Regions from separate parts of the Homo sapiens genome. Here all the other regions are linked to region 3. Evidence: fine-mapped expression QTL. A gene starts in region 3. Each other region holds a variant in brackets. All regions are shown on one strand. Distances are between the middles of the regions.

Region 1 (2,764 bases), 150 kb before region 3:
GACTCAAATTCAAGTCTTTCTAATGCCAAATGTATAATACCCATGGGGGCTGTTAATATAATGGCCAATATTTATTGTGTGATTACTATGTGCTAGTTGCTATGTTAAATGCTTACATGCAACATTTCATTTCCCTTCTACAAATATGCCATGAGGTAGATACCTGCTTTAAAATAAAGAAAATTGAAACTCAAAACAGTTAAGTTCCCATAGCTAGGATGACCAGCCAACCACCACTCAAAGCCCCCTGCTTCTAGCACTATGCAATGTTGTCTCCATTGTCTTTAGTCTAGTCCACCCGAACTAAGGAAAAAAATACTTTGAGCTTTTCACAAAACTTGTGTAAAAGCAGGTACATTTGAGGATAAAAAGTTTAACTATTTTATTCAAAACTCTTTATTCCCTTTGTGAATGGTCCAGTGAAAAAGGCCAAGCTTTCCATGTTACCTGCGAGGAAGGCCCAGAGAGGTCATGAGACCTAATCAATAACACACAGCAGCACCAAATTCCTAGTTCAGTGCTCAAAAGTTTAAACCCCAAAAGCCATTCAACTCCTCCTCCCTCCCCTCTGTCTTCTTTATGACCTGGCCTTGTAGGGTAATGGGAATGAGCATGGAAGACAGTCAAGCTGGGATCTGAATCCTGGACATAGAATTTACCAGTTGTAAGCACTTGGACAAGTTGCTCTTTGTGTCTCAGCCTCAGTTTTCATAGCTATAAAATTGTTATATAACATTGTTTTTTTTTTTTCTTTTTTTTTTTTTTTTTGAGACGGAGTCTCGCTGTGTCGCCCAGGCTGGAGTGCAGTGGCGGGATCTCGGCTCACTGCAAGCTCCACCTCCTGGGTTCACGCCATTCTCCTGCCTCAGCCTCCTGAGTAGCTGGGACTACAGGTGCCCGCCACCACGCCTGGCTAATTTTTTGTATTTTTAGTAGAGACGGAGTTTCACCGTGTTAGCCAGGATGGTCTTGATCTCCTGACCTCGTGATCCGCCCATCTCGGCCTCCCAAAGTGCTGAGATTACAGGCGTGAGCCACCACACCCGGCCTATAACATTGTTATATACTATTATTCAACTTGAGGGGGGAATTGAAAAGGTTAAATGAGGTAATGTCCATCATTCTATGTCATTACTTTGTTTTAATTTCTTCCTAGCATTGAACACTACTTATGATTATTTTATTTGTTCATGAGTTTACTGACTTTCTACCTTTGTCTTTCCATAGCTGTTCTCCAAGTGTCTAGAATTGCAGTGATTAGCACAGTGGCCACTAGCCAATGTGGCTATTAAGCATTTGAAATGTTCCTAGCAGGAACTGAGATGTGCTGGAAGTGTAACATACACACAAAGTTTCAAAGACACAGCATTAAAAAAAAAGTAAATGTAAAATATTTTATTGATAATTTTTATATTGATCACATATTGAAATAATATTTAGGGCATATTGGGTTAAATTATTAAAATTACTTTTACCTATGTCTTTTCACTTTCTTTAATGTGGCTGCTAGAAAATTTAAAATGTCGTATGTAGTTAATATTATTGCCATCGACCAGTGCTAGTCATGAACAATGCTG[G/A]CACATACTAGGTGCTCAATAAATAGTTGAACGACTGAATATTTTTCTTTGAATGAGTGAGTGGCACAAAAGTGAAAGTATGTGAATAATAGTTTATCTCAAGTAGGCGACCTCCATAGGATAAAGCTGTCTGCTTTAGGTTAATAAACTAATTCTGGTTGAGGTGTTAATAGCTGATAACAGCTTAACTTGTTGGCATGAGTCAAGGTAAGATGTACATTTTAATTGCAACTCTCTAGAAGTCAGATAAAAGTAGGCTTTTTAATTCTACTGTGAGGTCTTCCAGAAGCAAGGTTCCTTTAGATTAAATTAAAAAAAAAAAAAAAAAGAAGAGGAGGGAGGGGACAAATGCTGAGAATGGGGATGGAACAGAGGATGGAGGGAGATGCGGAGAAACTTCAGAGCGGCAGGTGCCTTCGTTTCCCGTTACCTGCTGAGTCTAGTCCCTTCCAGGGCACACAGTGGGCGCTTAGTAACTGTAGAAAGAAGTCGAACGAAATCGGAAGGGGGAGAGGCAGAGGCCACAATCAAGACACGGAAACGACAGTCAGTCGAGGCAGCAGAGAGGGTTTCACGCGGGCCAGCGGAGGCGCAGGGCAGTTGAGAAGGGAACTTGCCACGGGGCGGAGGGGCCGCGCTCCCCACCAGCGCGGCGCGGGGGCGCTAGGCCAGGGACCGCCGGGCCAGGGACCGCCGGCTGCGAGCAGCGGGAACGGACCTGCCCCGGGTCGCAGCGGTTTTTCCCGGGCGGGGCTGAGGCTGCAGGGAGGCGGGCGTTCCGGCGGAGGGTCACGGCCTCGCCGCCGGGACTTTCCTGGGGTGGAGGTGTGAGCACGTAGGAGCCCTGGCCTTTCCAACTTCCCAGGTCAGACTGGGGCTGGGACCACCCTGCGCGGCCTTGGATGCAGGGAACCAACCCAGTGCTAGTCCGCCCTCGCGGGGACCTGTCCTCTCGCCTGACCTATGAAGTCCGTCCCTGCCTCCAAGGCTCCAACAAAGTCCTTCTTTCCCCCAGAGTAGCAGTTCTCAAACTTGAGTGCATCAGCATCACCCAGAGGCTGTATTCAAACACGTTGCTGGCTCCCTCCACGGTTTCTGATTCTGTGGGTTTAGGGTGGTGATGCTGATTCCTCTGGTCAAAGGACCATCCCTGGAGAGCCACTGCCCTTTAGGTAACGATTTTCCCC
Region 2 (2,764 bases), 39 kb before region 3:
AACCATAAAAACCCTAGAAGAAAACCTAGGCAATAACATTCAGGACATAGACATGGGCAAGGACTTCATGTCTAAAACACCAAAAGCAATGGCAACAAAAGCCAAAATTGACAAATCGGATCTAATTAAACTAAAGAGCTTCTGGACAGCAAAAGAAAATACCATCAGAGTGAACAGGCAACTTACAGAATGGGAGAAAATTTTTGCAACCTACTCATCTGACAAAGGGCTGATATCCAGAATCTACAAAGAACTCAAACAAATCTACAAGAAAAAAACAAACAACCCCATCAACAAGTGGGAGAAGGATATGAACAGACATTTCTCAAAAGAAGACATTTATGCAGCCAAAAGACACATGAAAAAATGCTCATCATCACTGGCCATCAGAGAAATGCAAATCAAAACCACAATGAGATACCATCTCACACCAGTTAGAATGGCAGTCATTAAAAAGTCAGGAAACAACAGGTGCTGGAGAGGATGTGGAGAAATAGGAACACTTTTACACTGTTGGTGGGACTGTAAACTAGTTCAACCATTGTGGAAGTCAGTGTGGCGATTCCTCAGGGATCTAGAACTGGAAATACCATTTGACCCAGCCATCCCATTACTGGGTATGTACCCAAAGGATTATAAATCATGCTGCTATAAAGACACATGCACACGTATGTTTATTGTGGTACTATTCAAAATAGCAAAGACTTGGAACCAACCCAAATGTCCAACAATGATAGACTGGATTAAGAAAATGTGGCACATATACACCATGGAATACTATGCAGCCATAAAAAAGGATGAGTTCATGTCCTTTGTAGGGACATGGATGAAGCTGGAAACCATCATTCTCAGCAAACTATTGCAAGGACAAAAAACCAAACACCACATGTTCTCACTCATAGGTGGGAATTAAACAATGAGAACACATGGACACAGGAAGGGGAACATCACACACTGGGGCCTGTTGTGGGGTGGGGGAAGTGGGGAGGCATAGCATTAGGAGATATACCTAATGTTAAATGACGAGTTAATGGGTGCAGCACACCAACGTGGTACATGTATACATATGTAACAAACCTGCAGGTTGTGCACATGTACCCTAAAACTTAAAGTATAATAATAAAAAAAAAAAGAAAACAGTAATTACTAGGTCAAAGTCGAGTTAAGAAAAATAGAATCACTCCAAATAATTCAATAGAGGAAATGTAATTTAAGGAACTAATTCCACATGCTTTCAGAGAGCTAAAGGTGCAAACATGGAATAGAGAGGCAACCCAGAGACCCATTGTCACCCTTAAGGGTGGCAGGATGGATGAAAGAAGTGCTACGATCACTAAGAAGCTACCAAAGCCACATACAGGGAGATGAAAACATTGAGAAGACACAGCCTGGACATGCTGCCTAACTAAGCAAATCCCATTCCCAATCTCTTTCCTAGTGCCTTCTGTTGGCCAGTCCTCATGGAGTGA[CAGAA/C]AGGAAGAATGCATGAGAAATATAGTTTGTAGGGTTCAGCCCCTTGCAATACAAAGAAGATCACAGCAAGTGGTGAATGGATCCAAGATCAACAAGAAAATGGCAGAAATTGATATTTATAACTTCACTTTGAAAAGAGAGCCACAGTTGACATTCTGGCATATTTACCTGTCATCTTCTTTTTATATATTTTTCATGTGCATAATGGAGGTCATACAGGTTTTGCAAGTCGATGTTCTTTTTTCTTCACTCAGTATTATTTCTTGTGTTTTTCCGCATCATTCAAAATTTTATGAATTTGGATGCATACTCTTGCATTTTATGGAGGTACTATAATTTATGTAGTCATTTCTTTATTATTGGACATAAAAAATGTGTCCATCAAAGCAATCTTTTAAAAAAAGACCAAAATTGGAATACTTAACAGATTTCAAGACTTATTATAGAGCTACAGTAATTAAGACAGTGCAGTTTTGGTATTAAGTTAGAAAAACAGAACAATAAAATAGATTATAGAGTCCAGAAATAGATCCCCACGCATAGGGTCATTTGACTTAAAGCTTTGCAATTCAGTATGAAGAAGACCATCTTTTCAATAAATAATGCAAGTTTTCCTTATTTTCTACATTGACACTCAGTTTACATTTATATTGAATTTATATTGAATATCAGTGTGGAAAATAAAGGAAGCTTGATCTCTACCTCAGGCCATGCACAAAAATTAATTTGAAGTAGATTAAGAACCAAAATGTGACGTCCGAAGTAATCAAGCTTCTAGCTGAAAATATAGAAGAATATCTTCCTGGCTTTGATATAGGTAAAATGTATTAAATAAGACACAAAAAGAATTTACCCTAAAAGAAAAAAATTATAAAATTGATTTTATTAATGTTGGGAATTTCTGTTTATCAAAAAGCAAATAGGCAAGGCACAGAGTTACAGGTGCAAACAGAGGCTAGAGAAGCAACCCAGAGACCCAGGTTGGCATTATTTATAATACATATATCCAACAAATCACTCATACTCAGAATGTATAAAGAACTCCTTCCAAAATTAAATAACAAAAACACAACCCAATTTTACAAAGGCAAAATTATCTAACAGATATTGCACAAAAGAGGCTGTTCAAATGGTCAAGCAGATGGAAAGGTGTTCAATTTCATTAGCTATAGGAGAGAAATTCAAGATAAACCCACAATTAAAAACCATTACAAACCCACCAGAATGGCTAAAATTAATAAGCCTGACAATATGAAGTACTGTCAAAGATGTGGAGTAACCGGAACTCCTC
Region 3 (2,718 bases):
GCAGTGGGTATTGATTGGTTCAGTGCCTCCTGCATTAGGAATCCACGCTTCTTTCACTTTGTTGCTTTGCTGTGTGTGGGTTTCATTCCTGAGGTCCTTTCATGGTTCAACACGGCTGCTGGAGCAAATAAAAAATCAAATACACAAAAGCCCAGAGAAAGAGCCATCCACAGAGGCCAGGCAACAAATCCACTTATTCAAGTCTAGCCAAGATGAGACCCCCTTGCCACAGTGCATGAAACCAGCATATTCCACTTATTCCATTCTTGGGGTACGTTGAAACAGATCTGGAAGCAATGTCTTCTGTGTATTAAGCATCTAACACTTTACAAAGCATTTTCATATGTCTTACCACATTTGTTCTTCATAATGTTCTGAAAAGGTAAGATGAATACATCTTATTATTCCTATTGAACACTTGATTCACACAGCTGCTAAGTAACAGATTCCAACGAGTCTATAGCTAGGTCTTTGGGTATGTTGCTGGTAATGAAAAGGTGAACAATCATGGTGCAGAAGAAAGAAAATGAGCCAAACCAGGATCCCTGGTAGAGTTGTAGTGCAAAGACTGGGGTTAATTGTGTGGCCTCAGCCTCACTGGGCTGTTCTCCTCACCTGTAAGACCAAGATAAGAGCACTTATTTACTTCGGGGTTGTTGTGAAGATAGCAGACAATCTTAGTGCACCTGCCACTTAAGATCCGTTCAGTGAAATTATTACCTTTCACAGGTGTGTCTTTGGAAAATCACTTCCCTTTCCTGGATCTCAGTTTTCTTTTCTAGGAAAACAACATGTTTGGACTCAGCGACTGCTAAACTGTCTCCCAAACCTCGAACTCCCTCAGCCTGGGATCCTGCCTTTTATGAAAATAGTTCGGATTGGAGCTCAGGTTGGAATTCTCGCTTTAGTTGCTTGCTAGCTGTGTGTCCCAGTAAAAGCTAAAAATTTCGGATTCCCCACATCTGTAGAATAGGGATACATAACATGCAGCTTATTAGAAAGGGAAGGCATGTGAGAATTAAATTAGGTCCGTGTCCAGTACCCACTAAATTGTAAAAACTTCTCAAAGGCAGGGACCCATCTGTTTTGTAGATTTACAGAATGTCATACGTTGAAGTACGGGGGTTCGCCACGGGATTAGAAAATTTCTGTAGAGTAAGGAACAAGACACAAGGTAAGCATTCAAGAATTGTAACCATGCAATATTCTTATTTCTTACAGTCGCCTACAACAGTCCTGGTGTTTAGTAAACGGTCTGACACACACACCCATCAGGGGCTGCGGAGAGTCCGCCTGGGTAAGCTCCGCAAGGTGAGTCCCCAGAGCCGGGAACTCGCAGCCTGAGCAGACGCAGCGTAGCCGATCTTGGGTCCGCGCTCCTCCCGCCTTGCCCAGCCCTGCCCGCGGTTGGCTAGGCCCCAGGGAACGCTGCAGCCGCGGGGTGGGCAGGCGACGGCCAATCCCACGCCCGGTTCAAAGGGCCAATCAGGCCGCGCTTTACAGGGGCCGCGCTTTACAGGGGCCGCGCTTTACAGGGGCCGCGCTTTACAGGGGCCGCGCTTTACAGGGGCCGCGCTTTACAGGGGCCGCGCTTTACAGGGGCCGCGCTTTACAGGGGCCGCGCCGGCGGGGGCGGGATCGCGCGCAAGGCGGGGCTGTAGCCGCCCCGGGACCGCCCTGCTCAGGCGCCGTGGGGTTCGGCGCGGCTACGTGCAGAATCCGTCTAGCTAAAATGTAATTTCAGATTGGACAAGTACTGTAAGTGACCCTCCTCTCAGTCCCACGTGGGCGCTGGGGGCTTTTGCTGGTGCGCAGGCTCTTAGCGCGCACGCCCAGAAAGAGGCTTCTCCAACCCGGCCCGGCCCTTCCTTCCCCTTTCCCGCAGTCGTTGCCTCCTCCTCCCCTGCCTCCTCCTCCCCTTCCTCCTCCTGGCCGCTTAGTCTCACACCCGCCGGGCCGTTGTTCCCGAGACGTTGTTGAGTCCCCTGTGTCCTCTTCTGGGTGAGGCGTCCGGCCACTTAAGGGAAGGGAAGGGAAGGGTCGGCCTTGACTGCATCCCCAAGGCTGCCTATTAGGTGTCTGGAACCCGTGCTGCTTCCTCTCCGATCAGTGCCCACTTATCTGTATTCAGTACTCTTTCTCTCCTCCCCTTACCCTTGTAGGACATTTTCCTGGCATTTGAGGAGCCTTTAATTCACGTCTGGCTACCGAAGGCATTTTTAGGCTAGTGTTGCTTGTAGATTTAAACGCTTCCAGCACTTGTGATAATGTTTGAGGCACAGCTGAGTTTAGATGAGATAATGCTGTTTGGTTACAGTTATCCTGAGTAGAAAGGCCTAGGGATATCTTTTCATTTTTAGCCGTTTCCTTTTTATTTAAAGATTGACAAGGGGCCGGGCGCGGTGGCTCACGCCTGTAATCCCAGCACTTTGGGAGGCCAAGGCGGGTGGATCACGAGGTCAGGAGATCGAGACCATCCAGGCTAACACGGTGAAACCCCCGTCTCTACTAAAAATACAAAAAATTAGCCGGGCGTGGTGGCGGGCGCCTGCAGTCCCAGCTTCTCGGGAGGCTGAGGCAGGAGAATAGCGTGAACCCAGGAGGCGGAGCTTGCAGTGAGCTGAGATCGTGCCACTGCACTCCAGCCTGGGGGACAGAGCGTCTCAGAAAAAAAAAAAAAAAATTGACAAGGTGCAAAATGGTGAATTTCCCTCATCA

What was found. PIP is the estimated chance that this variant, and not a neighbour inherited with it, causes the effect.
Region 1: its variant is fine-mapped to the expression of FGGY-DT in testis (GTEx, PIP above 0.99).
Region 2: its variant is fine-mapped to the expression of FGGY-DT in subcutaneous fat (GTEx, PIP 0.95).

The regions. Positions count from the first base shown.
Region 1 is chr1:59,144,669-59,147,432 of GRCh38, forward strand. HSD52 (a long non-coding RNA gene) reads right to left here and starts at 2,139. Exons shown (of 3, transcript NR_027120.1): 1 at 2,008-2,139. RefSeq lists an enhancer at 1,968-2,027 and a silencer at 2,148-2,297. The variant G/A (reference allele first, on the strand shown) is at 1,578.
Region 2 is chr1:59,255,832-59,258,595 of GRCh38, forward strand. No RefSeq gene overlaps it. Among named protein-coding and RNA genes, the nearest start is that of FGGY-DT, 39 kb to the right of the region's middle. The variant CAGAA/C (reference allele first, on the strand shown) is at 1,470.
Region 3 is chr1:59,295,150-59,297,867 of GRCh38, forward strand. FGGY-DT (FGGY divergent transcript) reads right to left here and starts at 1,401. Exons shown (of 2, transcript XR_001738089.2): 1 at 1,220-1,401; 2 at 1-615. FGGY (FGGY carbohydrate kinase domain containing) reads left to right here and starts at 1,945. Exons shown (of 16, transcript NM_018291.5): 1 at 1,945-2,001. RefSeq lists silencers at 1,347-1,886, 1,897-1,986.